2 separate regions of the Homo sapiens genome follow, and region 2 is linked to region 1. Evidence: fine-mapped expression QTL. Tissue or cell type: lung. Region 1 holds a variant in brackets; the other region holds the start of a gene. Each region is shown on its reference strand, or each on the opposite one.

Region 1 (16,272 bases):
AGATAAAACAGCTCTCTCTCTCTCTCACCTGTTGTCTCAGTCTCCCAAGCTCTCTCTGCATATCCTCCACAAGGGTCACCGCTTCTTCGCCGCTCTCCGGATGCAGCTCCTGCACCCTGCTCTGGATCTCCTGGGGCAGGATGGTCAGGAACTGCTCTAACACCAGCAGCTCCAAGATCTGCTCCTTCGTGCGCATCTCAGGCCGAAGCCACCCATGGCAAAGCTCTTGGAGCCGGCTGAGGGCTTCCCGGGGACCAGCTGCCTCTTGGAAGCGGAACCGTCTGAAGCGCAAGTGGGAGGCCTCGGGGCTCGGTCCTGGGTCAGGTGGGGGCAGCTCCTGGCTCCAGGCGCAGTCCTCCTCCAGCTTCACTATCAGGAGCCCTTCCCGTTCCTGGGAGCCCGGGCCCGACGCCATCGTCAGGTCTCCAGAGCGCCTTAGCCCGAAACCAGCCGTGCCCGCCTACGAAGGCGCCCTGAACCCATGTAAGGTTGGACGGCGCCAGCAGGAGCCCGGGGCCGGGGGCTCCCAGTCCAGGCCGAGGAGCCCCGCTCCAGCCCAGGCGCGGCCGGCTCCGGCGCCTAGGCCTCAGTCGGTCCCAGGCGCCGCCACGCCGGCCCCGTGGCCCATCTGCGCCAGGACTTCCCCGAGGCAGGAACCGAGCGCCACGCTTCTCACCCTATATAGAGGACCCACGCAAGACTCAGACCTCTGCTCCCACGCCGGAAATCTCAGCGCGCAAGTTAGGCGTCCACAAGCCCACGGCGCCTGCTCGTGACCAATTTCCGGGTCACGTTTTGCGAACTCCAGCGCCCATTAGGTCAGGTTTCTCCACACACTCACCGCCTACCAATGAGAAGGGAAGATTGGCCTACGGGGACTGGATGAGCGAGGGACCAATTGGAGACGAGAGGCGGGGCCACGGGGCGCGCCCTGAAATTCTGGGAGTGACTGGGGGCAGGGCAGCTGGATCCAAGCGAAGAAAACAAGCCTGAGGTCGTTGTGACTGGCGGGCAACCTGGGTTAGAATTACTCCGGAGCGCTTGGGAAAACGCAGATCCCAGGGCCACGCGCTCTCCAGTGCGTCAGTGTCGGGGTGAGACCCGGAAATCTGAATTGTTAATCAGCTTCCCCGGATGAATCCTTTCCCAAGCCAGGCCCCACCCGCTTCGGCTACTCTGGGCTGGCTGAAGATGGTCCCATTGGCCCCTGCGGCCTCGTCGGCTCCGGAAGCCAGGGGCTCCTCGGCATGTCGGGGAGGCCAGGGAGCTAGCCGCCCGCCCAGTCAGTGGCGCCGCGTGGCCTGCTGCGCGGGGCCTGCTGGGAGATGCAGTCCGCGGCGCGGCCTCGCGACTGCGCGTGCGCCCTGGGCGAGCGCCCAAGAGCCCGGCGGTTCTGAAACCCCGAGTCCCGCGGAGAACCCTGCTGGGCTTTGGGCTCGCTTCTGCGGCTGGACGTCCCAGAGGAGCGCTCGGGTCTGGGTTCGCGGCACCTGCTTCCGATTTTAGACCGAATTTTAAATCTGCCCGAGATGTGCAGCGCCTGCAGTTCATTCTCCAAGTTTCAGTCTCTTACCCAGCCCTGCAAGGGCGGGATCTGCCTCCAGCTCCGCCGTGGACTGTGATAGTTGGGGGCGAGTGGCAGGAGGGCCGCAGGGCCGATTCCCTATTGGGCGCGGTTGTGGGCTTTGTGTCGGTGAGCGGGGCTGCCCAGTTGTGAGGCGGCCCAGGTCCTCCGGGCCATGAGATCCGCAAATGGAAGCGTCCTGGGATAGAATGTGACAATCAGTTACCGTGTATTGAGCGTTTATATGCAGATCGATCCTGAAAACACGTTAGTATGAAGCAGATGCTATTAGCAGCCCCTTCCTACAGGTGGTGGCACTGAAGTCATTTACTTGGGTCACACAGCTAGTCTGTCGTCAAAGGTGAGGCTACCATGATAGTAGAGGGTAATATGGGATTAAAGGGGTTTGTGATGACTAAGTGAAAAGAGTACTGATATTTTAGTTTTTTTCTTTTTTTTTTTTTTCCGAGACGGAGTTTCGCTCTTGTTGCCCAGGCTGGAGTGCAATGGCGCAGTCTCGGCTCACTGAAACCTCCCCCTCCCGGGTTCAAGCGATTCTCCTGCCTCAGCCTCCTGAGTAGCCGGGATTACAAGCGCCCACCACCACGCCCGGCTAATTTTTGTATTTTTAGTAGAGACGGGGTTTCACCATGTTGGCCAGGCTGGTCTCAAATTCCTCACCTCGAGTGATCTGCCCGCCTTAGCCTCCCACTGTGCTGGGATTACAGGCGTGAGCCACCACGCCTGGCCTTTTTTAAAAATTTTATTCCAGGGAAGATGACAGATCCACAGGCTGTCGTGGCAGATGCAGAGCCAGCGACCCCATAGCACTCAAGGTCCAGTTTGGAAAGCCTTGTTTGCTCCCTAGGACCATTCTGGTGGTTTTAGGCATTCCTGTTCTTTTGTTTTTGAGATAGGGTCTTGCTCTGTCGCCCAGGCTGAAGTGCAATGGCACGATCATTGGACATTCCTATTTCAAGAGACATAGATTCTAGACTCATAACCAATTGCAGAAGACTCTAGCCTCAAAACCACTTTTCTCTGACATTTACTATGTAATCTCAGGCAACTTATGTAATCTCACTAAACCCCAAACTTCAGTTTCCTCATTTGTTTTGAGGGACTACTATACGCACCTCACCTCATATCACTGGGTTAGGATGAAATGAGCGGAGCTACACAGGATGCTTAGAACAGTACCTGGCACATAGTATGAATCCGATAAATAGTAGCTGTTACGCATGCACAGCAAGTTCCTGAATGTGTGCCTTATCTCAAAAAAGAAAAGCCACTCAGATTATTATTGCAGAATCTGTGGCATGGGAATGTTTGCAGAACTACACATACCTTGAGATAGGGAGAATGAGGGATTAATCATTTTCTATCTAAGGTCCTTTTGATTTTATGCTATTTATAGGTACTTAAAAGTAGATGAATTTAGGCTAGGTGCGCTGGCTCACGCCTGTAATCCCAGCACTTTGGGAAGCCAAGATAGGCGGATCACGAGGTCAGGAGATCGAGATCATCTCCTGGTTAACACGGTGAAACCTCGTCTCTACTAAAAATACAAAAAAATTAGCCGGGCATGGTGGCGCACGCCCGTATTTCCAGCTACTGGGGAGGCTAAGGCAGGAGAATCACTTGAACCTGGGAGGCAGAGGTTGCAGTGAACTGAGATTGTGCCACTGCACTCCAGCCTGGGCGACAGCAAGACTGCATCTCAAAAAATAGCAATAATAATTTAATTTTTTAAAAAAAGATGAACTTTCAGGGTTATTCAAAATCAGTGGTGGTAGTAGTCCTCCTCCAATTCTTTGTGATCTGCCAGTATGTGGAAAACAGACTAGCTGGTATTAGACTAGGAGTGGTGTTAACAGGCCAGCAGATTTGTAGGGGTTTTTTGTTGTTTTTTCGAGATGGAGTCTCGCTCTATCGCCCCGGCTGGAGTGCAGTGGTGGGATCTCAGCTCACTGCAACCTCCGCCTCCCAGGTTCAAGCGATTCTCATGCCTCAGCCTCCCGAGTAGCTGGGATTATAGGCACCACGCACCACACCCGGCTAATTTTTGTATTTTTAGTAGAGACAGAGTTTTGCCATGTTGGCCAGGCTGCTCTTGAACTCCTGACCTCAGGTGATCCGCCCACCTTGGCCTCCCAAAGTGCTGGGATTACAGGCGTGAGCCACTGCACCCGGCCAGGGCCAGGGTTCTTAAGCTGCCTCCATGTCTGGAGCAGTGCTATCCAATAGAACTTTCTGTGATGGTAGCCAATGGGCACTTAAAATGGAGTTAGTCTTGCCAAGTATTACCATACTGGCCAATGCAGTTCCAGAGGATCCATGGATGGGTTTGGAGATTTTTGTAAACCTTTTGATACTGTATGCAAAATTGGATGTGTGTGTGTGTGTGTGTGTGTGTGTGTGTGTGTGTGTGTGTGTGTATCTGTATGTTCTAGTAAGTGGGTTCATAGCTTTCATCAAGTTCTAAAAACCGCCAAAAAGACTAAGAACTGCTACTTTAGGGCTTTGGTGAAAAGTAAGTAGTGAAGAGAAGTAAGCGCCTTTGAAACCAGTACAGATTCTACTTTCTTAACACTGTAAGTCCTCAATGTCCTAGATAGGTTGGAAACTGTTATCTTAAGTGAAAGCACATTTTGTTATAAGGTTGATGACAAAAATAAATTAGTTTCATTATATGTCTTTTCCCTTTAAGTCCCAGTTTCCAAGACCCTATCAATGATGTTAAGTGAGGACTTACCGTATTAGTGATGTTAAGTGAGGACTTAACTGTGTTTTCTCATCCTCAGCTGCAGGTGACTTCGTGACTGTTGCAGAGAAAAATAAATTTGAATCTTCGACAAAGAACCCTTACCACTCCTGGTTTTAGGTCTCATGGGTACTAGACTCTGTCTCTGGGACTTCTTTCATTCCCTAACTAGCTCTTACAGATTCCTTTGTACTCAAGGGGCCAGTTATCTGTGCCTGGTTTTCAAAGTGACATTTGGTGAAATCTACAGTGTTAAGACTTTCAAGACTAGGCCACGTACTGTGGCTCACGCCTGTAATCCCAGCACTTTGGGAGGCTGAGGTGGAAGAATCACTTGAGGCCAGGATTTTGAGACCAGCCTGGGCAACATGGCAAGACCTCGTCTCTACAGAAAAAAAATTTTAAAAATTAACTGGTTGTGGTGACATGCAACTGTAGCCCCACCTATTAGGGATGCTGAGGCAGGAGGATTGCTTCAGCCCAGGAGTTTTGAGACCAGCCTGGGCAACATAGCCGTCATTTTAAATCGATGCTTTTCCTGTCTTTCATCTTAGGGTACATTCAGCCTCCGGGAGCTTCTGCCACTCTAAGCCTTTGCTACTTGCCACTCCCCCCAGCTTTGGTCTCTCCCCTCGTTTACTTGACTACAGCATTCCTTTGATCTATGACTTAGGGTTTTCTTTTTTTCTGAGACAGAGCCTTGCTCTGTCGCCCAGGCTGGAGTACAGTGGCGCAGTCAAGGCTCACTGCAGCCTCTGCCCAAGTTCCAGCGATTCTCCTGCCTCAGCCTCCCGGGTAGCTGGGATTACAGGCACACGCCACCATGCCTGGCTAATTTTTGTATTTTTAGTAGAGATGGAGTTTTGCCATGTCGGCCAGGCTGGTCTTGAACTCCTGACCTCAGGTGATCCACCCGCCTCGGCCTCCCAAAGCGCTGGATTTAGGGTTTTCTTTTACCTGTACCACATGCTCTTTGATCCTACTCCTAGCTTTGAAATCCAATCATAAACAAAATAGCAAATTTAAATGGCATTTCATTTGAAATGCATTTTATTTTTATTAATATGGAATATATTACCTTTCCTCATGAAAAGATAAAATGAGACATTTTACGCCACTTATATTTTGATTAAATGTTCTGGAGTTTAAATTTTCCTTTGGACTAACATTAACCAAACTGTCTTACTAATATTGTTTGATAATGTTAATATTTAGACATATTCCTCTATTTGCATATTAGATCACTATTTACCAACCTATTTTTTTTTTCAGACCAGTAAACTGTCAAGATGAGGAGGGAGAGGAAAGAACTTGGAAAGAGGGTGCAACCCAAACTTTTGTCAGTGAGGGGAGGCATGGCAGGACACAGGGGAGACCACACTGGAGACCATTTTACTAATTGTCTGGATTGATGGAAACACTCTTAGATATTTGTTTTGGTTAATATCAAGACAATCTACTTCTAGGCTTCAGCTAAAACAAACATGTAAAGATTGTTTTTGCTGGTTGCCAACCAAACCAGTTCAGATACTAATTCTTATTTGAAAGTCTCTTAACTGAAATTAATCCAGGACATAGTTTAACTACCACATTTACCTCTCTCTTCTCTTGGATTCAATAAGAGAATAGTTCTCAGTTTTAATATAGTCAGAATTTTAGGAAGATTAACTTGATATTTTGGTTCTTAGATAATTTTATTATCAAAATATTCAAAAAATGAGGTAAAACTAAATCAGTGCATTGACTAGCAGAATTAATTCACTCCTCTTCCCAGAGATTGGAGGAGAATAGCTTTGAATTGAGCACAAAAGGATCTTCCCCCTATTTTGTTTTTGTTCTAATGTTTGTTTATTATTTTTCCAGTATGCCTTTCGTACTCCTAGATTTTGTTCTAATGTTGAAAAACTGCCTGTTATGCTGGGCACAGTGGCTCACACCTGTAATCCTAGCACTTTGGGAGGCCGAGGCAAGAGGATTGCTTGAGCCAGGAGTTCAAGACCAGCCTGGGCAACAGAGAGAGCCCTTCTCTCTACAGAGTTTTTTTTTTTAATTATCAGGGCATGGTAGCACATGCCTGTGGTCCCAGCTACTCCAGAGGCTAAGGTGGGAGGATCCCTTGAGCCTGGGAGGTCAAGACTGCAGTGAGTTGAGATTGTGCCACTGCAGTCCAGCCTGGGAGACACTGCAAGACCCTGTCTCAAAAAAAGCCAGCTGCCTGTTAGAGGCTCCAGGTGAAATAATCCTAATTGAGAAGGAAATAAATATGGAGAGGCCATCTGTCCTGGAAATCGGCTTGAACTCAGGAAAAATCAGTGTGACCCAGACTATCATGTTCCCTGTATTTCTTATGACCAGTATATCTAGTCCCAAACCCTGACCTGTACTTCCCACTGGAGCCTAGAGAAGAGCCATGGGTGCAGGAATAGCAGGATTCCAAAGGAAAGAAACAATGACTTGACTCCAGGAGAGGTGAGTGTTCACTGGAAAGAAACGGGAAGAAAGAAAAGAAAAATTCAGCCTTACTTGGAATAAAAGGCTTTGGGATTCTATTTAGCAGTTTCTGTTTTCTCTCTACTACTTTAATACAACTCTTATTTTCCCCCCTCTTTCTCCTTGGACAGGGTGATATCTGCAATTTCTTTTTCTTACAGGTTTTGAGATCAGGAGAGAAAATGCAGATTCTTCAAAGCTGAAGAAATGTCAGACTCTGCATCTATTGTTACTTCAGAGGAGAATAAAATTGAATCATCAATTTTACAAAAAAGACTACAAACATTTAGGAAATCAGTAGAGAAACACCCCAGATTTAGCAAAGCTTGTAGATGATCAGAACCTCTCTATAAGGAGAGAAACCTGAGAACAGAATGGGAAGGCGAACTCAGCTCTTAGCTTTTTCTTAGTGTTTATAAGCAATCAGCTCCCAAATCAGGGTGTTTTAACAACTGGGAAGCCATCCCATATTTTCCAGTTTGGGAGGCTTTTCCTAGCACTTCGGGAGGCATAGGCAGAAGGATCACTTGAGCCCAAGAGCACGGGACCAGCCTGGACAACATAGTGAGATCCCATTTCTACAAAAAAAA[C/AC]AAAAATTAGCCAGGCGTGGTGGCAAGTGCCTGTGGTCCTAGCTGCTTGGGAGGCTGAGGTGGGAGGACTGCATGAGTCCAGGAGATTGAGGCTACAGTGAGCCATAATCGCACCAGTGCATTCCAGCCTGATACCCTAGAAGCTAATACTATGACACTGTGGTTCTGAAAAAAGAAAAGCTTTGTATTGCAAGTCGACTCACAAGGAGACAGGAATATCAAGCTCAAGGCTGTCTCCCCGTGTTGGCTTTAAGGCAGTTATTTTTATTAGAAAAGGTTCAGGCGGTGGATTCTGAGATTAGTAGGTGATTATTAGTGGAAGGAAAGGGGAGATGTGGAAAGTCCTTGGGCTTTCGCAGTTACCTCTTCAAGCTACTTAATGGGTCTCATGCAAATTCAGGGACAGCATGAAACCTGTGTTGAAAATTCAGGCTGTGATGTCAGCAAGCTCATTCTGTGCAGACTCCAGTCAGCGTTATTGGTTCCAACAGATTTCTGCTTGTTCTTCTTTTATCTTATAGGGAGGGAGTTTCAGCATTTCTTCAGCATTTCAGCAAGTTGTTTTTTTTTTTTTTTTTTTTTTTTTTTTTTGAGTAGGAGTTTCGCTGCAACGCCCAGGCTGGAGTGCAATAGCCTGATCTCGGCTCACTGCAACTTCCGATTCCCGGGTTCAAGTGATTTTCCTGCCTCAGCCTCCCAAGCAGCTGGGACTACAGGTGCCCACCAACCTGCCAGGCCTCGAACTCCTGACCTCATGTAATCCACCCACTTCAGTGGGTCAATCCCTCAAAGTGCTGGGATTACAGGTGTGAGCCACTGCACCTGGCCAGCGAGTTGTTTCTTATCTGCCATCCTGCAGACTCAAGAATTTCTGTTAGTTACTGATTTCTTTAACTCTTTGGGGCACAGTTTCAGTAGCCACACATTTTTTAAGGCTCCTAGAAAATTAAAATAGCACAAAAATTGTAGTATATTTTAAATATCTGCATTTAAATAACATTTTCACTCAACACAAGACCACAACTGGATATTTTATTGGTGATAACTTCAAAAATCTAAAACTTAAGACTTTTAATAAAGATGAAACCATACTAAATGGCCCTACTTTGTACTCTTTTCCTTTTTTGTAGAGACAGAGCCTTGCTATGTTGCCCAGGTTTGTCTTGAACTCCTGGGCTCATGCGATCCTCCCACCTTGTCCTCCCAAACTGCTGGGATTAAAGACGTGAGCCACCGCACCTCGCTCCTACTTGGTATTTTATGGTAACTCTTCAGCCATCGCTCCCCAACTAGGACCTCTTTTTAAGAGGAAGGGAGGCTGAAGGTCAGCAGCAAAGGACTAGAGTCCCCTCACCTTGGTCAGTGAATGGGAGGGACACACTTCCACTACCTTGTCTCCTGGGTTTTATTTTTGTTTTAATAATTCTTAACTTTTAAAAACTTCACAAATCTCTAACAGCCAAATCTTCTGGGTTTTAAACATGGTCACAGATTTTTTTTTGCCACTCATCCCATCAAGAAGTGGGGCATCTGTCCCTCTGCCTTGTATCTGGGCAGCTTGTGACTGCTACCAATGAAATACAATGAAATACAGATGTGGTGTGACCTCCAGGGTGAGGTCATAAAAGGCCTTGCAACCTCTATCTTGTTTGCTAGGAGAACTTGCACTTGGAGCTAGTGTAAGAAGTCTGGTTACCCTGAGAGCACCATGCTGGAGTGGCTGCACATAGCTCTCTAGTGGAGAGTCCAGAGGTGCTTTTGCTTCTTGTAAAATAGAAACAAAGTCAAACTAATAGACACTGCCATTGATTAGTTGTGGAAGGTGGTCATATAGGTATTTGTTAGGTTTTGTGTATTTGAACTGAGGCAGAATAGGGTCTGGAGGCAGGGAACTGAAGGCCAGTTCACCTTGACTTCCTAGAACTAAATCGAAAGAAAAACCCCAACTTTCCACGCATAAGTAACAAAAGGACCAGAGGCTACTCCCTTTGCCAATGCCCACCTTTTCTGAGGGGCAGATGGGAAATTGAAGGTACCTCTGACTGGCTGCTTTTTGCAATCAGACGTTTGCACAGGAGTGTAACTTTGTAACTTCACTTCAGCCTCTGATTGGTTGCAACCAATCAGACTGACTGAGGTTGGTTCATTTACATGGGGTGAACACCAAGTGGCCAATGGGAAACCTCTAGGGGGTGTTTAAGCTGCTGCTTGGCCGGCTCCCACACTGTGGCATGTACTTTCAATAAATCTCTGCTTTTGCTGCTTCATTCTTACCTTGCTTTGCTGTGCGTTTTGTCCAGTTCTTTGTTCAAAATGCCAAGAACCTGGACAATTTGCATCAAGACCCTCTACCGGTAACAGAACCGTTTCATTTCAAATAAAGACCAAGGAAAGGGGCATAATTAGCAATGTTATCTCTGGCTGTTGGTTTGAAGACTCTGACTCCAGCCTCAGAAACAAACCTTTTCCAGAAAGGGGAGGAAGATGGTTGTAGGTTCTGCTGCAGGGAAGTGTTCTCCAGCCATTTGAGCCACCTCAGCTGAAGCTCCAGCCACTGTGGAACGAGATGAGTTGTGCCTCTGGGTCTTGCTTGAAATCTGACCACCAAGTTGTGAGCATAATAAAGGGGCTGCTGTTTTACACTATTAAGTTTTGGGGTGTTTTTCATGCAACAATAGATAACCGGAACAATAGGCATACATGAATAAATAAACCTTGTAGAAGATTCAATGAATACAGATGTATACAAACAAAATGAAGGTCTGGGCACAGTGGTTCACACCTGTAATCCCAGCACTTCGGGAGGCCAAGGCGGGGAGGATCACTTGAGGTCAGGAGTTCAAGACCAGCCTGGCCAACATGGTGAAACCCCATCTCTACTAAAACTACCAAAATTAGCTGAGCGTGGTGGCGGGCGCCTGTAATCCCAGCTACTTGGTAGGTTGAGGTAGGAGAATCGCTTGAACCTAGGAAGTGAAGGTTGCAGTGAGCTGAGATCATGCCACTGCACTCCAGCCTGGGCAACAGAGCGAGACTGTCTCAAAAAAAAAAAAAACTGAGGGACTTTTCCATCACCTCCCACCTAATGTCTCCATGCTCTACAGGTTTACCTGGCTGTGCATCCTCCCAGTCTCCTGAGGAACTTCATGTACCTATATGGGCTAATTATATGTATACACCATGCTATACATATTTTCCAGATCTTCTTTTTAAATATTAGCAGTGTGCCTTTGACATCTATCTAGGTCCAGATGAATAGGCCATTGCCACTCTTAACAACTGTAGAGCATGCATACTATGGATATACCACAGCTGTACTGACTGTCTCCCCATTTAGATTGTCTCCAGCTGTTTCCTTTAACAACCAATACTCCAATGAACATCTCAGACGTGCATATTTGGGTACATTGGATATAGTCTTAGAAATGGAATCACTGAAGCAAAAGCCTTGTGCATTTTTTTTTTTTTTTTGAGATATGTTCTCCCTCTGTCACCCAGGCTGGAGTGCAGTGGCATAATCTTGGCTCACTGCATCCTTGACCTCCTGGGCTCAAGCAGTCCTCCCACTTCACCCTTCAGAGTAGCTGGGACCACAGGCATGTGCCACCCAATTTTTTATTTCTTGTAGCAACGAGGTCTCACTTTGTTGGTCAGGCTGGTCTGAAACTCCTGGGCTGAAGTGATCTGCTCACCTCGGCCTCCCAAAGTACTGTGATTACAGGCATGAGCCACCGTGCCTGGCCTAGGCTTGTGCATTTTTAATTTTGAAAACTTGCAGCAAATCACCTTCCAAAACAGCTTCACAGGCCAGGAGCAGTGGCTGACACCTGTAATCCTAGCACTTTGGGAGGCCGAGGCGGGCGGATCACCTAAAGTCAGGGGTTTGACACCAGCCTGGCCAACGCGGTGAAACCCCGTCTCTACTAAAAATACAAAAATTAGCCGGGCATGGTGGCGGGTGCCTGTAATCCCAGCTACTCAGGAGGCTGACGTGGGAGAATCGCTTGAACCTCAGAGGTGGAGGTTGCAGGGAGCCGAGATTGCATCACTGCATTCCAGCCTGGGTAAAAGAGTGAGACTCCATCACAAAAAAAAAAAAAAAAAAAAAAAAGCTTCACAAATTTAACTCGTAACCTGAGGTGTGAAAGTGCTTCTATGTCTGCATGCTCATTAAAGTTGGCTGTGGCAATCATATTAATTTGTGATAATATAGTGGGTGAAAAATTATGTCCCCTCAGCCGGGTGTGGTGGCTTAGGGCCTGTAATCCCAGCACTTTTGGAAGGCCAAGGCAGGAGGACTGCTTGAGCCCAGGAGTTCTAAACCAGCCTGGGTAACATAACAAGACTCTGCCGCTATTTAAAAAAAAATAATATCCCCTTGTTGCCTGTCATGTTTCTGATTACTTGGAGATTGGGCATCTTTTCACGTGGTACTTTGTATTTCTTCTCTGAGTTGCCTTTTTTTTTTTTTTTTTTGAGATGGAGTCTCAGTCTATTGCCCAGGCTGTAGTGCGTGTCAGGATCTCAGCTCACTGCAATCTCCGCCTCCTGGGTTCAAGCAATTCTTCTGCCTCAGCCTCGCGAGTAGCTGAGACTACAGGCACGTGCCACCATGCCTGGCTAATTTTTTGTAGTCTGTAGAGACAGGGTTTCACTGTGTTAGCCAGGATGGTCTCGATCTCCTGACCTCGTGATCCACCCGCCTCAGCCTCCCAAAGTGCTGGGATTACAGGTGTGAGCCACCACGCCCGGCCGTGAGTTGCCTATTTAAGCCTTTGAGCATTAAAAAAATTATAGTGCTTTAACATTCCAGGTATTATCGTATGTACAAATATTTTCTCTGTCACCTTTTTTATTTTTATTTTTTAAGACAGGGTTTTGCTCCATCACCCAGACTGGAGTGCAGTGGTGCAATCACAGCTCACTGCAGCCTTGACCTCCCAGGCTCAAGCGATCTTTCCAACTTAGCCTCTTGAGTAGCTGGGACCACAGGCGCACACCACCATGGCCAGTTAATTTTGTGAGGGAGGGTAGAGATGGGGTCTGCCTACATTGTGGAGACTCAAACCCCTAGGCTCAAGCAATCCTCCCACCTTGGCCTCCCAAAGTGCAGGGATTACAGGCATGAGCCACTGCATCCAGCCTTTTAACCATATTCATGGCTGTTTTTGTCATACTGAAGTTTTCTAATTTTTCTATTTACCTGAATTTTTTAACTTTTTCAGTTTTTTTATCTTGGTTAGAAAGATCTGTCAGCCCCCGCCCGGCCAGCCGCCCCGTCCGGGAGGGAGGTGGGGGGTCAGCCCCTGCCCGGCCAGCCGCCCCGTCCGGGAGAGAGGTGGGGGGTCAGCCCCTGCCCGGCCAGCCGCCCCGTCCGGGAGGGAGGTGGGGGGTGCCTCCGCCCGCCCAACCGCCCCGTCCGGGTGGTGGGGGGCCGCCTTTGCCCGGCCGCCCCTTCTGGGAAGTGAGGAGCCCCTTTGCCCAGCCACCACCCCGTCTGGGAGGGGTACCCAACAGCTCATTGAGAAGGGGCCATGATGACAATGGCGGTTTTGTGGAATAGAAAAGGGGGAAAGGTGGGGAAAAGATTGAGAAATCAGATGGTTGCTGTGTCTGTGTAGAAAAAAGTAGACATGGGAGACTTTTCATTTTGTTCTGTACTAAGAAAAATTCTTCTGCCTTGGGATACTGTTGATCTGTGACCTTACCCCCAACCCTGTGCTCTCTGAAACATGTGCTGTGTCCACTCAGGGTTAAATGGATTAAGGGCAGTGCAAGATGTGCTTTGTTAAACAGATGCTTGAAGGCAGCATGCTCGTTAAGAGTCATCACCACTCCCTAATCTCAAGTACCCAAGGACACAAACACTGCAGAAGGCCGCAGGGTCCTCTGCCTAGGAAAACCAGAGACCTTTGTTCACTTGTTTGTCTGCTGACCTTCCCTCCACTGTTGTCCTATGGCCCTGCCAAGTCCCCCTCTGCGAGAAACACCCAAGAATGATCAATAAAAAAATAAAAAATAAAAAAAAAGAAAGATCTTCCTCACTGCGAAATTTAAACAAATTTACAGATATTACACTTCGTGTTTCTTTAAATCATCTGGGCCAGGTGCGGTGGCTCATGGTTGTAATCCCAGCATTTTGGGAGGCCGAGGCGGGTGGATCACTCGAGGTCAGGAGTTCGAGACCAGTCTGGGCAACATGGTGAAAACCCATCTCCACTAAAAATACAAAAAATTAGCCGGGTGTGGTGGCACATGCCTGTAATCCCAGCTACTTGGGAGGCTGAGGCAGGAGAATCACTTGAACCTGGGAGGCAGAGGTTGCAATGAGCCCAGATCACACCATTGCACTCCAGCCTGGGAAACAAGAGCGACATTCCGTCTCAAAAAAAAAAAAAAATATATATATATATATATATATATATATATATATATATGGAGTTTATTTTTTATATATGTCAGGCAGAAGTCTATGTTTTCCAGCTCAACTGTCAACAGTCCCAAAACTATTTATAAGTTGGGCCACCTTTTCCCCTTGGGTTTTAAATACCATCTTTTGCATATACACACGTCTTACGGAATCTTGTTTCCATTTACCTTATATCCATTCTTGTAAAAACATATTACTGTTCTAATTTACTGTATTTTCACAGCTTGTTGTTATATCTGTTACAATACATCTCACACCACTGTATTTTTTTCACAATTTTTTTGGCTATGAATTTTAAAAATCAACTTGTCAAAGCCCATTCTTAAACATCTTGCAGCCTGGTGCGGTGGCTGATGCCTGTAATCCCAGCACTTTGGGAGGGTGAGGTGGGCAGAACAGCCTGGCCAACATGGCGAAACCTCATCTCTACTAAAAATACAAAAATTAGCTGGGCATGGTGGGGCGCACCTGTAATCCCAGCTACTCGGGAGGCTGAGGCAGGAGAATCACTTGAACCTGGGAGGCAGAGGTTGCAGTGACCTGAGATCACGCCACTGCACTCCAGCCTGGGCAACAGTGAGACCCAGTCTGAAAAAAAAAAGAAAGTCTTGTTATGGCTGGGCATGGTGGCTCACACTTGTAATGCCAGCATTTTGAGAGGCCAAGGCAGGAAGATCGCATGAGCTTAGAAGTTTGAGACCAGCTCAGGCAACATAGCAAGATCACATTTTTTTAAAAATGTAAAAAAAAAATCTCGTTACAATTTCAATTGGGTTTGCTTATAATTTGTTGATTAATTTAGGAATGCATGATATATTTGTAATATTAACTCTTCCATCCACGACTGTGGTGTATTTCTTCAATGATCTGGGACTTTTAAAATTCTGTAATCCTATATACTTTTCTTCTTATAGGTCTTGCAAATTTCTTATCATGTCTGGTTATGGGTTTTGCTACTATTGTGCATGGGATTCTTTGTTTCAAATTTTGTTTCCTAATTACTCAGATTAATTTTCCAACACCTACCACCAACTCTTTCAAGGCAGCATGTAGGGGTTAGTGGTAGCAACTCTTCTCTTGGAGCCAGTCTTAGTTGTCTGTATAAAGAAACCATTCCATGTTCCAGGACAGACTTTGCTGCCGTTGGGATGAATGGAGAGCAACATCCCGGTTGTCCGTCATGGGTGACAGCCTTCCTTCAGGTGACTTTGGCCTGTGATTTTCCATCCTGTTTGGGCTTCAAGTTATCCGAAAGGAATCATATTGAAATGGGTGTTTCTGAATTTCCGTGTCCTCATGTTTTTAGTTCTTCACAGCCTGCTTTAAAAATTATTCATTCTTTTTTTTTTCTTTTTGACAGAGTCTCGCTCTGTTGCCCAGGCTGGAGTGCAATGGTGCGATCTCGGCTCACTGCAACCTCCACCTCCCGGCTTCAATCGATCCTCCCGCCTCAGCCTACTTAGTAGCTGGGGTTACAGGCGCACGCTACCATGCCCGGCTAATTTTTGTATTTTTAGTAGAAATGGAGTTTCACCATGTTGGTCAGGCTGGTCTTGAACTCCTGATCTCGTGATCCACCTGCCTCGGCCTCTCAAAGTGCTGGGATTAAAGGCGTGAGCCACCGCGCCCAGCCACATTATTCATTCTTGCTTCTGCCTCTCCCTTTATCTTTCAGATATTAGGTGTAGTCAATAGCACTTAACTTTCTTCCAAATACAGTTAGGTGGACAGAATTCTAGTCCCAGCTCTGCACTGATGTGTAGAACTCAAGTCAGTCAGTTCCCCTGGAAGCCTGTGTCCTCCTCTGTAACATGACGGGGTTGGCTTGATGACTGCTAAGCTACCAGATGCCAAGAGACAGCAAAGCCAAAGGAAAGGCCTTGAGCTCTGCAGACACAGACCTTGAGACTGAATGTTGGCTACCTGACTCTTTGTAGTTGTGTAGCCTTGGGCAAGTCAGTGTGTACAAACTTCCTGTTTTCTGTGTTAAATTGAATATATCAACACCCACCTTGGACAGGCACAGTGGCTCCTGCCTATAATCCCAACACTTTGGGAGGCCAATGAGGGAGGATGGCTTGAACCCAAGTTTGAGATCAGCCTGGGAAACATAGTGAGACCCCGTCTCTACCAAAAATAACTTTTTTTGAATTAGGCGTTTTGTTTCAAAAATTTCAGAGAAAGGGACCTGTATCTAGAGTCTTATTTCAGGGGCAATCTTCCCACCTCAGCTTCCCAAGTAGCTAGGACCACAGGTATACATGATGGTGCATTCCTGTAGTGTCAGCTACTCGGGAGGCTGAAGTGGGACATTACTTGAGCTGGGGAGGTCAAAGCTGTAGGGAGCTGAGGCCAGGCACGGTGGCTCACGCCTGTAATCCCAGCACTTTGGGAGGCCGAGGTGGGCAGATCACAAGGTCAGGAGATCGAGACC
Region 2 (16,272 bases), not on the chromosome of region 1:
AATTCTCCTGTCTCAGCCTCCTGAGTAGCTGGGACTACAGGTGCCTGCCACTACGTCTGGCTAATTTTTATATTTTTAGTAGAGATGGAATTTCACCTTATTGGTCAGGCTGGTCTCGAACTCCTGACCTCCGGTGATCCACCTGCCTCAGCCTCCCAAAGTGTTGGGACTGCAGGCGTGAGCTACTGCGCCCAGCTATTTATTTTCTTCTACTCACTTTGGGTTTGGTTTGCTCTAGCATCTCTAATTCTTTAAGATGCATTATTAGGTTGTTTATTTAAAGTTTTTTTTTTTACTTTTGTAATGTAGGCACTTATAGCTATAAACATTCTTCTTAGTACTTATTTTTCTGTATCCCACAGATTTTGGCATGCTGTGTTTCTATTATCATTTGTTTCAAAAAACTTTTCTTTTCTTTTTTTTTTTTTTGAGACAGAGTCTTGCTCCATCATCCAGGCTGGAGTGCAGCGGCGCAGTCTCGGCTCACTGCCACCTCCACCTTCTTGGGTTCAAGCAATTCCTCAGCCTCATGAGTAGCTAGGACTACAGGCGCCCGCCACCATGCCCGACTAATTTTTGTATTTTTAGTAGAGACATGGTTTCACCTTGTTGATCAGGCTGGTCTCGAACTCCTGACCTCAGGTGATCCACCTGCCTTGGCCTCCCAAAGTGCTGGGATTACAGGCATGAGCCAATGCGCCTGGCCTCAAAAAACTTTTCAATTTCTTTCTTTTTTTTTTTTCTCTTTGAGATGGAGTCTCACTCTGTCTCCCAAGCTGGAGTGCAATGGCGCAATCTCCACTCACTGCAACCTCCACCTCCTGGGTTTAAGCAATTCTCCTGCCTCAGCCTCCTGAGTAGCTGGGATTACAGGTGTGTGCCACCATGCCCGGCTAATTTTTGTATTTTTAGTAGAGACAGGGTTTCATCATGTCGGTCAGGCTGGTCTTGAACTCCTGACCTCGTGATCCGCCTGGCTCCACCTCCCAAAGTGCTGGGATTACAGTCGTGAGCCATCATGCCCAGCCCAACTTCTCAATTTCTTAATTGACCCACTGGTCATTCAGAAGACGACTGTTTAATTTCCATGTGTTTGTAGCATTTTGAAAGTCCACTTGTTACTGATTTCTACTTTTATTGCCTTGTGGTCAGAGAAGGTACTTGATATTATTTCAATTTAAAAAAGTTTCAAGACATATTTTATGGCCTAACATATAGTATTTCTTTGAGAATGATCCATGTGCTGAGAAGAATAGGTATTCTGAAGCTGTTGGATGAAATGTTCTATAAATATCTATTAGGTCCATTTGTTCTATAGTGCAGATTAAGTCCATTTCTGTCTGGAAGGCCTGTTCAATGCTGAAAGTGGGGTGTTGTCATCTTCAGCTATCACTGTGTCAGACTCTATCTGTCTCTTTAGCTCTAATAATATTTACTTTTATATCTGGGTGCTCCAGTGTTGAGTGTATATATATTTACAAAGATTATGTCCTCTTGCTGAATTGATCCCTTTAGCATTATATATAATGACTTTGTCTCTTTTCACAGTTTTTCTCTTGAAATCTATTTTTCTGATATACATGTAGTTATTCCTGCTATTTCGTCGTTTCCAGTGGCATGAAATATCTTTTTCCATCCTTTTATTTTAATCTATGTGTGTCTTTATAGGTGAAGGGTGTTTCTTGTATGCAATAGAGCATTGGGTCTTTATTTTTATTCATTCAGCAACTCTGTGTGTTTTGATTGGAGACTTTAGTCCATTTATATTCAATGTTTTATTAATAAGTAAGGATTTACTGCTGCCATGTTGTTTGGTGGTCTTCTCTTCCTTCTTTCCTTCCTTCCTGTCTTCCTTATTGTGAAGGTGATTTTCTCTGGTTGTATATTTTAATTTCTTTTTAAAAAATTTTTTGGTATCTGTTGTAGGTTTTTGAATTTAGTTTACCATGAAGCTTCCATGGTAAACTATATCTTATAACCCATTATTTTAAACTGATGACAACACTGATCCCATAAACAAATAACAAACAAGAGAAAAACTAATAAAAACATTACACTTTAACTATGTCACCCAGCTTTTAAATTTTTTGTTTCTATGTATATCTTATTGTACTGTCTATGTCTTGAAAACTTGTTGGAATTGTTTTTGATAGGTTCATATTTTAGTCTTTCTACTCAAGATATGAGTTTACACATCACAGTTACATTGCTACTATATTGTTTTTTTTTTCTGTGTAGTTACTATTACCAGTGAGTTTCGTGCCTTCAGATGATTTCTTGTTGCTCATTAACATCCTTTTAGATTGCAGAACTCCCTTTAACATTTCTTGTAAGACAAGTCTGGTGTTGACAAAAATCTTTCAGCTTTTGTTCATCCAGAAGAGTTTTTATTTCTCTTTCATGTTTGAAGGATACTTTCAGCAAATACACTATTCTAGGATAAAAGTTTTTTCCTTCAGCACTTTAAATCCATCATGCCACTCTCTCCTGGCCTATAAGGTTTATACTGGGAAGTCTTCTACCAGGCATATTGGAGCTCCTTTGTGTGTTGTTTCTGTTCTTTTGCTGCTTTTAGGATCCTTTCTTTACCCTTGACCTTTGGTAATTTGATTACTAAATGTCTTGAGGTAGTCTTCTTTGGGTTAAATCTGCTTGGTATTCTACGGCCTTCTTGTACTTGAATATTGATATCTTTCTCTTGGAAAGATAATCCTTCCTAATATCTTTGGGAAATTCTCGATATTATCCCTTTGAATAGACTTTTTTAAAATTATTATTATACTTTAAGTTTTAGGGTACATGGGCACAACGTGCAGGTTTGTTACATATGTATACATGTGCCATGTTGGTGTGCTGCACCCAGTAACTCATCATTTAGCATTAGTTATATCACCTAATGCTATCCCTCCCCCATCCCCCCACCCCACAACAAGCCCCAGTGTGTGATGTTCCCCTTCCTGTGTCCATGTGTTCTCATTGTTCAATTCCCACCTATGAGTGAGAACATGCAGTGTTTGGTTTTTTGTCCTTGTGATAGTTTGCTGAGAATGATGGTTTCCAGCTTCATCCATGTCCCTACAAAGGACATGAACTCATCATTTTTTATGGCTGCATAGTATTCCATGGTGTATATGTGCCACATTTTCTTAATCCAGTCTATCATTGTTGGACATTTGGGTTGGTTCCAAGTTTTTGCTATTGTGAATAGTGCCACAATAAACATACACGTGCATGTGTCTTTATAGCAGCATGATTTATAATCCTTTGGGTATATACCCAGTAATGGGATGGCTGGGTCAAATGGTATTTCTAGTTCTAGATCCCTGAGGAATCGCCACACCAACTTCCACAATGGTTGAACTAGTTTACAGTCCCACCAACAATGTAAAAGTGTTCCTATTTCTCCACATCCTCTCCAGCACCTGTTGTTTCCTGATTTTTTAATGATCGCCATTCTAACTGGTGTCAGATGGTATCTCATTGTGGTTTTGTTTTGCATTTCTCTGATGGCCAGTGATGATGAGCATTTTTTCATGTGTTTTTCGACTGCATAAATATCTTCTTTTGAGAAGTGTCTGCTCATATCCTTTGCCCACTTTTTGATGGGGTTGTTTTTTTTCTTATAAATTTGTTTGAGTTCATTGTAGATTCTGGATATTAGCCCTTTGTCAGATAAGTAGGTTGTAAAAATTTTCTCCCATTCTGTAGGTTGCCTGTTCACTCTGATGGTGGTTTCTTTTGCTGTGCAGAAGTGCTTTAGCTTAATTAGATCCCATTTGTCAATTTTGGCTTTTGTTGCCATTGCTTTTGGTGTTTTAGACATGAAGTCCTTGCCCATGCCTATGTCCTGAATGGTATTACCTAGGTTTTCTTCTAGGGTTTTTATGGTTTTAGGTCTAACATTTAAGTCTTTAATCCATCTTGAATTAATTTTTGTATAAGATGTAAGGAAGGGATCCAGTTTCAGCTTTCTACATATGGCTAGCCAGTTTTCCCAGCACCATTTATTAAATAGGGAATCCTTTCCCCATTGTTTGTTTTTTCAGGTTTGTCAAAGATCAGATAGTTGTAGATATGCGGCATTATTTCTGAGGGCTCTGTTCTGTTCCATTGGTCTATATCTCTGTTTTGGTACCACTACCATGCTGTTTTGGTTACTGCAGCCTTGTAGTATAGTTTGAAGTCAGGTAGCATGATGCCTCCAGCTTTGTTCTTTTGGCTTAGGATTGACTTGGCAATGCGGGCTCTTTTTTGGTTCCATATGAACTTTAAGGTAGTTTTTTCCAATTCTGTGAAGAAAGTCATTGGTAGCTTGATGGGGATGGCATTGAATCTATAAATTACCTTGGGCAGTATGGCCATTTTCACGATATTGATTCTTCCTACCCATGAGCATGGAATGTTCTTCCATTTGTTTGTATCCTCTTTTATTTCATTGAGCAGTGGTTTGTAGCTCTCCTTGAAGAGGTCCTTCACATCCCTTGTAAGTTGGATTCCTAGGTATTTTATTCTCTTTGAAGCAATTGTGAATGGGAGTTCACTCATGATTTGGCTTTCTGTTTGTCTGTTATTGGTGCATAAGAATGCTTGTGATTTTTGCACATTGATTTTGTATCCTGAGACTTTGTTGAAGTTGCTTATCAGCTTAAGGAGATTTTGGGCTGAGACGATGGGGTTTTCTAGATATGCAATCATGTCATCTGCAAACAGGGACAATTTGACTTCCTCTTTTCCTGATTGAATGCCCTTTATTTCCTTCTCCTGCCTGATTGCCCTGGCCAGAACTTCCAACACTATGTTGAATAGGAGTGGTGAGAGAGGGCATCCCTGTCTTGTGCCAGTTTTCAAAGGGAGTGCTTCCAGTTTTTGTCCATTCAGTATGATATTGGCTGTGGGTTTGTCATAGATAGCTCTTATTATTTTGAGATACGTTACCATCAATATCTAATTTATTGAGAGTTTTTAGCATGAAGGGTTGTTGAATTCTGTCAAAGGCCTTTTCTGCATCCATTGAGATAATCCTGTGGTTTTTGTCTTTGGTTCTGTTTATATGCTGGATTACGTTTATTGATTTTCGTATGTTGAACCACCCTTGCACCCCTGGGATGAAGCCCACTTGATCATGGTGGATAAGCTTTTTGATGTGTTGCTGGATTCGGTTTGCCAGTATTTTATTGAGGATTTTTGCATCAATGTTAATCAAGGATATTGGTCTAAAATTCTCTTTTTTTGTTGCATCTCTGCCAGGCTTTGGTATCAGGATGATGCTGGCCTCATAAAATGAGTTAGGGAGGATTCCCTCTTTTTCTATTGATTGGAATAGTTTCAGAAGGAATGGCACCAGCTCCTCCTTGTACCTCTGGTAGAATTCGGCTGTGAATCCATCTGGTCCTGGACTTTTTTTGGTTGGTAAGCTATTAATTATTGCCTCAATTTCAGAGCCTGGTCTATTCAGAGATTCAACTTCTTCCTGGTTTAGTCTTGGGAGAGTGTATGTGTCGAGGAATTTGTCCATTTCTTCTAGATTTTCTAGTTTATTTGCGTAGAGGTGTTTATAGTATTCTCTGATGGTAGTTTGTATTTCTGTGGGATGGGTGCTGTTATCCCCTTTGTCTTTTTTTATTGCATCTATTTGATTCTTCTCTCTTTTCTTCTTTATTAGTCGTGCTAGTGGTCTATCAATTTTGTTGATCTTTTCAAAAAACCAGCTCCTGGATTCATTGATTTTTTGAAGGGTTTTTTGTGTCTCTATTTCCTTCAGTTCTGCTCTGATCTTAGTTATTTCTTGCCTTCTGCTAGCTTTTGAATGTGTTTGCTCTTGCTTCTCTAGTTCTTTTAATTGGATGTTAGGGTGTCAATTTTAGATCTTTCCTGCTTTCTCTGGTGGGCATTTAGTGCTATAAATTTCCCTCTACACACTGCTTTGGACGTGTCCCAGGATTGTGGTATGTTGTGTCTTTGTTATCGTTGGTTTCAAAGAACATCTTTATTTCTGCCTTCATTTCGTTATGTACCTAGTAGTCATTCAGGAGCAGGTTGTTCAGTTTCCATGTAGTTAAGTGGTTTTGAATGAGTTTCTTAATCCTGAGTTCTAGTTTGATTGCACTGTGGTCTGAGAGACAGTTTGTTATAATTTCTGTTCTTTTACATTTGCGGAGGAGTGCTTTACTTCCAACTATGTGGTCAATTTTGGAATAGGTGTAGTGTGGTGCTGAAAAAAAATGTATATTCTGTTGATTTGGGGTGGAGAGTTCTGTAGATGTCTATTAGGTCCGCTTGGTGCAGAGCTGAGTTCAATTCCTCGATATCCTTGTTAACTTTCTGTCTTGTTGATCCGTCTAATGTTGACAGTGGGGTGTTAAAGTCTCCCATTATTATTGTGTGGGAGTTTAAGTCTCTTTGTAGGTCACTAAGGACTCGCTTTATGAATCTGGGTGCTCCCGTATTGGGTGCATATATATTTAGGATAGTTAGTTCTTCTTGTTGAATTGATCCCTTTACCATTATGTAATGGCCTTCTTTGTCTCTTTTGATCTTTGTTGGTTTAAAGTCTGTTTTATCCGAGAGTAGTATTGCAACCCCTGCCTTTTTTTGTTTTCCATTTGCTTGGTAGATCTTCCTCCATCCCTTTATTTTGAGCCTATGTGTGTCTCTGCATGTGAGATGGGTTTCCTGAATACAGCACACAGATGGGTCTTGACTGTTTATCCAATTTGCCAGTCTGTGCCTTTTAATTGGAGCATTGAGCCCATTTACATTTAAGGTTAGTATTGTTATGTGTGAATTTGATCCTGTCATTATGATGTTAGCTGGTTATTTTGCTCATTAGTTGATGCAGTTTCTTCCTAGCCTTGATGGTCTTTACAATTTGGCATGTTTTTGCAGTGGCTGGTACCAGTTGTTCCTTTCCATGTTTAGTGCTTCCTTCAGGAGCTCTTTTAGGGCAGGCCTGGTGGTGACAAAATCTCTCAGCATTTGCTTGTCTGTAAAGTATTTTATTTCTCCTTCACTTATGAAGCTTAGTTTGGCTGGATATGAAATTCCGGGTTGAAAATTCTTTTCTTTAAGACTGTTGCCTTCTTTAGAATATTTATTTAGGGTATTGTGACAAAGTCAAAAGGTGATGCAGGACAAAAATCATTATATGCAGGACATGTCCTGTATGTATAGGAATCTTGGAAATTTTATTAGTGATGTCTTTCATGCTACTAACACATTTGAAAAACACCTACTGAGAGCTCGTATGTGTTCCTTGGATGTGTATTTTAACAGTGAATTATCAAGACAGCACAACTTCACTGTTGATTTTTACCATTCTGATATCTTCTTTACAATTGCTCAGCATTTTCAGGAAAAAAGAGTCACATTTTGTTGACAAAGTGTGGTCAAGATCACAACACAACCATATGCTTAACTTCATTCTTTCACTTATACTTTAGTATTCAGGCTCAAACTTTACTGAGATCTTAACTTTGTCCATCTATCACAGATATTTCCTTAGAGCAATTTCTTTCATTATCTTCAAATAACTACGGAATCATTATTAATAGCTGTCAGGATTTTTCCCCCGGGGATAATCTCACCTCCTAACACAGACACCATACTTACAATGACAATGACAGGTTAAATGGTAATTGCACTGTGTTTTGCTGTGATGGAGACATCACTGATTACCCAGGCAGGAAGAGTTTTCTGAAGAAATCTGTCCACTGGTTTCAGGGAGACTCCACATCATCCCTCTTCCTTCTTCCACTCCAAGGCCTTGTTTGGAATATTTTCTCTTCCGTCTCTGACCAAACTGAAGCTCACAAAAGTTACTGTAAAGCTTGAGTGCACACATATTTAAAAAGCAACAAGGTAATAGTTATTAGCTTCTAGCTGTGAGTGTACGCAAAGAGACATTGTGGTGTGGTGTATCTATTTAGTTTTGCAGCTTTGGGGAACATCTGAAATGTCTCAACATTTCTGCGATCGGTGCATACTACACTCCAGGGAATCTAGGTCCAGGCCTTTTAAGAGGACAGAAGTCAGCCGGGCACCATGGCTCACTCCTGTAATCCCAGCACTTTGGGAGGCCGAAGCAGGCAAATCACAAAGTCAGGAGTTCGAGACCAGCCTGGCCAACATGGTGAAATCCCGTACTCTGCTAAAAGTACTAAAATTAGCCTGGCGTGGTGGCGGGCCCCTGTAGTCCCAATTACTTGGGAGGCTGAGGCAGGAGAATCGCTTGAACCCGGGAGGCGGAGGTTGCAGTCAGCCGAGATCGCGCCACTGCACTGCAGCCTGGGAGACAGAGCGAGACTCTGTCTCAAAAAAAAAAAAAAAAAAAAAAAAGAGGACGGAAGTCCTGTCAGCCCTTTGAAACTCGGGTTACTTTTCCCAAACAACTTGGCCCTCCTACTTCGAGTTTTCCCAAGAGCCCAGGCCGAGAATCCCCTGCCTTGAAGGATAGCTCAGTGGGAACCACACTCTACCCACAAACCTATACGTTGCATACCCAATGAGGGCCCAGGAGAGGGGTGTTTCAGTGCCTGCGGGGGGTGCGTGGGCGGGACTTCCGGCTCCTCCTTGTAGCGGACATTTTGTTTCTGTCAGGCTGTCCCTGGCCGGGGTTCTGTAACGCTTGTGTGGGCCGCAGGTGGAGGTGTTGGGAAAGCGCGGAGGAGATGTTGTCCCCAGTGTCCCGAGACGCGTCTGATGCTCTGCAGGGACGGAAGTGCCTGCGTCCCCGATCGAGACGCCTGCCGCTCCCGGCAGCTGTCCGCGCCCACGGTCCTATGGCGGAGCTAACGGACTCCGCGCGGGTGGGTGCTGCGTCCTCCGGGCCCTCAGTCACCCTTTCTCCGACTCCGAATCGTAAAGTGCCTGCAGCCCCTGTGTCCCAGGACAGCGACGCACTCTTGGGGCGGGGTCCTATCTCGGTGTGGGTGGGTGTGGGAGAGTTACGGGCGGAGGGGACGGCGCAGGTAAAGGCTCGGGGGTGCTGCTGACCCCCAAACATTTGGGAGACAGGGTTCTCATCAACACAGAGCAGAGTTTGAGGAACTGTGACTGGAATGGCAGGCTGAGAAGTTGTCGCTTCATTCTGAGGGCGTTGAGATTAACTGAGGGTTTTGAATAGAAGGACGTGATCTTAGCTGGGATTTTAAGTGTCTCGAAATTTGCTCAGGGGAGAACATTAGTTTGGGGTGGGGACTGCGAGGATGGATACGAGGAGACCGGTAAGGAGGCTACTGCAGTGGATTCCAGGAATGCTTTGGTGGTGGATGTACCAAGAGTAATGGCAGGTGAGTGGGTAGAAGTGATCATATTCTGGGTAGGTTTTAAATTTGAAACCAACAGGATTTTCTGCTCCATCATATGCAGCTATGACTGAAAGTAAGGCATGAAAGAGCAAGGTGTTTTTGTTGTTTTTCCATGAACGTTTGGATTTTGGAATGGTGACTTTGAGATGTCTCAGAGTGGAGGCTTCCTCACTTAGGCAACTAGAGAGGAAGGTCTGAAGTTGTGGGGAAGGGGCTGGGCTTAGAATATCTTTGGGGTGAAGGGAGCGGTCTGGAGTAGGTCAAGGCCAGGAGGTCAGATTTAAGTGGGGCAGTCTTAAGTATGTTATTTCATATCTCTGGGGTAAGAGATGAGAAGGCTGGGACTGCAGGGCAGGGAAGAGGGAGTGGGCATTCTTGAGACTCCCCCCAGAAGAGAAGGGTCCTGCCATTTGAAAGGGTTCTTTTCAGTGTTTGCAGGAGGAGAGAGCTGTAGGGTATGAGGAGTTTGGCCTGGGATGGCAACGATGGGTGGTGTGCTATTGCTACTATCTGATTATCTCACCCTCATTTTGTGTGTTTTCTTTTAGTTTTAGTTTATTTATTTTTTTTATTTTTTTTGAGACGAAGTCTCACTCTGTCGCCCAGGGTGGGATGCAGTGGCTTATTGCAACCTCTACCTCCCGGGTTCAAGAGATTCTCCCGCCTCAGCCTCCCAAGTAGTTGAGATTACAGGTGCCCACAACCACCCCTGGCTAATTTTAGTATTTATAGTAGAGACGGGGGTGGGGAGGTGGGAGGGGTGGGGTGGGGTGGGGAGGTGGGAGGGGTGGGGTGGGGGCGGGGGAGTGGGGGGGACGTTCACCGTGTTGGCCCAGGTGGTCTTGAACTCCCGACCTCAACTGATCCACCGGCCCCAGCCTTCCAAAGTGTTTGGATTACAGTTGTGAGCCACTGCACTTGGCTTTGGTTTTATTTTATTTATTTATTTTTTTTTTGGAGACGAGTCTCGCTCTGTCACCCAGGCTGGAGTGCAATGGTGCGATCTTGGCTCACTGCAGCTTCTGCCTCCCAGATTCAAGTGATTCTCCTGCCTCAGTTTTCCCAGTAGCTGGGATTACAGGCATGCATCACCATGCCCAGCTAATTTTTGTATTTTATTAGATAGAGTTTCACCATGTTGGCCAGGCTGGTCTCAAACTCGTGACCTCAGTTGATCCACTCCCTTCGGCCTCCCAAAGTGCTGGGATTACAAGAGTGAGCCACCATGCCTTGGCCAGGTTTTGTTTTGTTTTGTTTTTTTGAGATGGAGTCTTGCTCTTGTCACCCAGGCTGGAGTGCAGTGGCGCGATCTCGGCTCACTGCAACCTGTCTCCTGGGTTCAAGCAGTTCTCCTACCTCAGCCTCCCGAGTAGCTGGGATTACAGGTGCCCACCACCACACCCCGCTAATTTTTCCATTTTTAGTAGAGACGGGGTTTCACCACGTTTCCTAGGCTGGAGTGCAGTGGCACAATCTCGGCTCACCGCAACCTCTGCCTTCTGGGTTCAAGCAATTCTCTTGTCTGCCTCCTGAGTAGCTGGAATTACAGGCACCCGCCACCACGCCCAGCTAATTTGTTTGTATTTTTGGTAGAGACGGGGTTTCACGATGTTGGCCAGGCTGGTCTCGAACTCCTGCCCTCAGGAGATCCACCCGCCTCGGCCTCCCAAAGTGCTGGGATTACAGGTGTGAGTCATCATGCTTGGCTGAGACCCCATTTCAAAAAAAAAAAAAAGTTCACTACTTCTCCCAGTCTTGCCTAGTGTAGTAGAAGGATCTCACGAATCCATCTGGCCAAAGATTTAAGGTGCTTCTCTAATCTTTGTGTTTGTCCAGAATGCTGTCTCTGTTTTTGGTAACTCTCTGGAACTTAGGATGTACTACATTCTGTCATTATCCTAAGGCCAGAAGGTAGGAACCAGACTCTTTTGATGTAGCTGGAATGTGTTGAGGGTGTTGAATGTGTTCCAGTTTCTTCCGTTTTCATGATGCAGCTGAGCATGGGTATTTATCTCCTGCTGCCTGCATTAAGTTAGTTAGAGATCTGTGTCAAATGCCTAAAGTCGGCCAGGCGCAGTGGCTCACACCTGTAATCCCAGCACTTTGGGAGGCCGAGGCGGGTGGATCACGAGGTCAGGAGATCAAGACCATCCTGGCTAACATGGTGAAACCTTGTCTCTACTGAAAATACAAAAAATTAGCCGGGCATGGTGGTGGGCGCCTGTAGTCCCGGCTACTCGGGAGGCTGAGGCAGGAGAATGGTGTGAACCTGGGAGATGGAGCTTGCAGTGAGCCAAGATCGTGCCACTGCACTCCAGCCTGGGCAACAGTGCAAGAATCTGTCTAAAAAAAAAAAAAAAAATTGTTATGTGTCTTCTGACTGCCTCACTGACCAGCTGATCCCCATCCTTCTCCCTCTCTTTAAGCGTTCCTATTCCCTGACACACAGCAATATTGAAATCAGGTCAGTTAATAACCCTACAGTGGCCTCTAAGAGTTCAAGTTAAAGGAGTAGTTACACATCTCTCACTTTAAATCAGGGGTGTCCAATCTTTTGGCTTCCCTGGGCCTCCAGCACTAGGGGTTGCATTTCAACATGAGATTTGTAGGGGATACACATCCAATCCATATCAAACAGTGGTACAATGTGCAACAAAGAAATGGAAGAGGGTTGAGGATACCTGAGATCTGCATGTGGTTTGAGGTGCCTGTGATTGAAAAAAGGAACAGGGCCAGATTGGGAGGCTTTCAGAGCAACAATAGGGCTTTCCTTGGCAATGGGGCCATTGATGGTTTGGAGCAAGATGGGATACTGATTGTTGGCAAGCACTTTTTTTTTTTTTTTTTGAGATGGAGTCTCACTCTGTCGCCAGACTGGAGTGTAGTAGCATGATCTCAGCTCACTGCAACCTCTGCCTCCCAGGTTCAAGCAGTTCTCCTTCCTCAGCCTCCCAAGTAGCTGGGACTACAGGCACACACCACCATGCCCAGCTAATTTTTGTATTTTTTTTTTTTTTTTTTTTAGTAGAGACGGGGTTTCACCATGTTGGCCAGGATAGTCTCGCTCTCTTGACCTCGTGATCTGCCTTCGGCAAGCACTCTTAATGCTATGTGTAGAGTGACATTTGGGGAGTCCAGGGAGATGGGGTGGGCCAGTAGGGTGGGGGGGAAGCTGGAGATGTGAGGGAGACATAGTCCAGAGTGATGTGTATGAGAGGAGGGAGTGTGAGCTGACGGTCCTGTGACTTGGGGCTTAACTGAGAAAAATGAGCCTAGGTTCATACCTGGGATTTGTGATCTTGGGTACCCCAGGGGAGTTGGCTGGCTCAGAGTGTAAATGGCATTTATCTGTCAGCCTGTCTGTTGTTGTGGTGGGCTGACACAGTGATTGCTGGGGTGATCAGGAGAGAGTGAGGATCAGTGGTACTAGTGCCTGGTATCTCTGACTTGGGAACCTGGGAGGTTAGTTAGCAGGATGTTGTGGGTAGGTAGACTGGGGATCATTGGTCAAGAGACTTTTTATGGTCCTTCCTGTCCCTTTTGTTGCAGGGCTGTGTGGTCTTTGAGGATGTGTTTGTATACTTCTCTCGGGAAGAATGGGAGCTTCTTGATGATGCTCAGAGACTTTTGTACCATGATGTGATGCTGGAGAACTTTGCACTTTTAGCCTCACTGGGTAAGGTCCTCATGCTTTTCTGCCTTTACCACTCTGTTCTTCCTATGGTGGGATCATGAGCACCGCTTCCTTCACCAGTTTCCTGGAGTAGGTGCTCAAGATGCCAGGGCTAAGCTGTATGGAGTGTCCTCCCTACTTGCTGAGTAGTCCTGAAGCCGTGCAGCCAAGGGTTTGGGGTCATGAGACTTGTGGTTTGCCCAGTGGATCTCACTAGGTCTGTTCGCTTTCTGTACTGGTGACTCTGTCCAAAATTATGATGCCTCTGTGCCCAAGGTTCTGTCCCTTTCTCCAGGTGACATTTTCTTTTCTTTTTTTTTTTGAGTCAGGGTCTGGCTCTGTTGCCCAAGCTGGAGTGCAGTGGCATGATCTCAGCTCATTGCAACCTCTACCTCCCAGGCTCAAGCCATCCTCTCATCTCAGCCTCCTGAATAGTTGGGACTACAGACACACACCACCACGCCCAGCTAATTTTTCTGTAGAGATGTGGTTTTGCCATGTTGCCCAGGCTGGTCTTGAACTCCTGAGCTCAAGTAATACCCTGACTTGACTTCTGAAAGTGTTAGATTACAGGTGTGAGCCACTGCGCCCAGCTCAGGTGACATCTTCTAGGGCCTGACCTTGTCAGGAGTTATAGGCACTTACATAGTCACTTATAGGGACCTTTGGGTTATTCCTGCACAACTCCTCCCAGGTTATTTTTCTTACCTGAAGTCCATCATAGGGTGGTTTGCCATGGGCCAGTGCTGGCTGCTCACCTGTTCTGACTTTCCCTTAGGAATTGCATTTTCCAGATCACGTGCAGTCATGAAACTAGAGCGAGGAGAAGAGCCCTGGGTGTATGACCAGGTGGATATGACTTCAGCCACAGAAAGAGAGGCCCAGAGGGGACTTAGACCTGGTGAGTGGACATCGGGGAAGGGCACGATGTCAAAGCTGGGTTCAAAACTGGCAACATTAACTGTTCACATCAGTGTTTGTTTCCAGGGCCAGTGGCCACACAGCGTTTCTATCTGTCCTTTCCTGTTCTTGACACGAAGATATATCATTTCTAGTTTGTTAGCCCCTTGCCACCCTCACCTCTGGCCTTCACCTTACACCCATGTTTCACCACTTCTCTGTCTACATTTTTTGGCAGTATTGACCTGCAATTAATGTTCACAAGATGTGCATATATTCTTAAATAGTCTTTGAACACCAGCTGCTCACTTGTAGTTGGATTTTCCTGGGACTGGATACATTTTTCATAGCACTCACGAGTCACTAACAGTCAAGGCCCTACTGGAAGCCATTTGTTTGGTTCCATTCTTATATCCTGGCCCTTCATTGGCACTCCCCCATGGTATGACCTCCAGAGGCTCACTACCTCAAAGCCATTCCTTCCTCACTCTGACCATGCCTCTCATTCTGAAAACAGTTTCATGAACTTATTCCTGCATGTGTCAAATGCACATATACAATGAGGTTGCCCCTTCCCACCCGTAAATATGCATTTAATCAGCATTTGTGTGTTCTTCAGGTTGTTGGCATGGAGTGGAGGATGAAGAGGTATCTTCTGAGCAGAGCATTTTTGTAGCAGGAGTGTCAGAGGTCAGGACTCTCATGGCAGAGCTGGAGTCTCACCCATGTGACATATGTGGCCCAATATTGAAAGATACCTTACACCTGGCTAAATACCATGGGGGAAAAGCCAGGCAGAAACCATACTTGTGTGGGGCATGTGGAAAGCAATTCTGGTTCAGTACAGACTTTGACCAGCACCAGAACCAGCCCAATGGAGGGAAACTTTTCCCAAGGAAGGAGGGCAGAGACTCTGTGAAAAGCTGCAGAGTCCATGTGCCAGAGAAGACCCTCACATGTGGGAAAGGTAGGAGAGACTTTTCAGCCACATCTGGCCTTCTTCAGCATCAGGCCTCTCTCAGCAGCATGAAGCCCCACAAGAGCACTAAGCTTGTGAGTGGCTTTCTCATGGGACAGAGGTATCACAGGTGTGGTGAATGTGGGAAAGCCTTCACCCGCAAAGACACACTTGCTCGGCATCAGAGAATCCACACTGGAGAAAGGCCTTATGAGTGTAACGAATGTGGGAAATTCTTCAGCCAAAGCTATGACCTCTTTAAACACCAGACAGTTCACACTGGAGAAAGGCCATACGAGTGCAGCGAATGTGGGAAATTCTTTAGACAAATCTCCGGCCTGATTGAGCACAGGCGAGTTCACACGGGTGAAAGACTCTATCAGTGTGGCAAATGTGGGAAATTTTTTAGCAGTAAGTCTAATCTCATTCGACACCAGGAAGTTCACACAGGAGCCAGGCCTTATGTATGCAGCGAATGTGGGAAAGAGTTCAGTCGGAAACACACACTTGTTCTGCACCAACGAACTCACACTGGAGAAAGGCCTTATGAGTGCAGTGAATGTGGGAAGGCCTTTAGCCAAAGCTCCCACCTTAATGTACACTGGAGAATTCACAGCAGTGATTATGAGTGTAGCAGATGTGGTAAAGCTTTCAGCTGCATCTCCAAACTCATTCAGCACCAGAAAGTTCACTCTGGAGAAAAGCCTTATGAGTGCAGCAAGTGCGGGAAAGCCTTCACTCAAAGACCCAACCTCATCAGGCACTGGAAAGTCCACACTGGGGAAAGGCCTTATGTGTGTAGTGAGTGCGGGAGAGAATTCATCCGGAAACAGACACTTGTTCTGCACCAGAGGGTTCATGCTGGAGAAAAGCTTTAAGAGTGTAGCAAATGTGGGGGAAAGTCTTAGGCCAATGCCCCTGACTTACTATATGGTGGGGAACTAGCAGTAGTTAATGAGTGCAGCAGATGCAGGAAAGCCTTCCCCTGGAGGCTGAACCTTACCCGCCATTGGGAATTTCACACCGGACACAGGCCTTAGCAGTCTAAGCAATGTGCTGTCTCTGTTCAGCCCAACAGCTCACCCTAGAGTGGAACTCTGGGAGCAGCCATTGGGAGGGAACCATCAGTAAGAAGTGAAACTTCATAGATATGGACATTCCCACTGGGGAGATTCCCTGTGAGTGTCAAGTATGTGAGATGCTTTCAGCAGCTGTGTTGCACTTTTTAAATGGCTATTGGCCTTTGCTGGGGCAGGAGCCATCTGCTCCTACCATCTGGCAGAATCATACTGCGTTTACCATTTACCCCAGCATGCTTGTGACGGGCAGACCTCTCTTCTCTCCCCAGTCCCTAAAAGGTGTTGTGAGTGGTCTCACAGCCCACTAGGGGTCTTAATTTCCTCTCTTTTGATGTAAATGGCATGGAAATAATCAGC

The links. PIP is the estimated chance that this variant, and not a neighbour inherited with it, causes the effect.
Region 2: it holds the start of ZNF671, and the variant in region 1 is the best candidate, but not a certain one, in a credible set for the expression of ZNF671 in lung (TOPMed, PIP 0.57).

Annotation. Positions count from the first base shown.
Region 1 is chr16:3,267,962-3,284,233 of GRCh38, reverse strand. It overlaps ZNF263 (zinc finger protein 263), which reads right to left and starts at 743. Exons shown (of 6, transcript NM_005741.5): 1 at 29-743. The coding sequence starts at 415. RefSeq lists enhancers at 1-254, 965-1,154, 1,265-1,770 and a silencer at 435-594. The variant C/AC (reference allele first, on the strand shown) is at 7,409.
Region 2 is chr19:57,719,923-57,736,194 of GRCh38, reverse strand. It overlaps ZNF671 (zinc finger protein 671), which reads left to right and starts at 8,571. Exons shown (of 4, transcript NM_024833.3): 1 at 8,571-8,804; 2 at 12,855-12,981; 3 at 13,757-13,879; 4 at 14,498-16,272. The coding sequence starts at 8,667. The coding sequence ends at 15,714. RefSeq lists enhancers at 8,225-8,274, 8,415-8,854, 8,372-8,872 and a silencer at 8,193-8,418.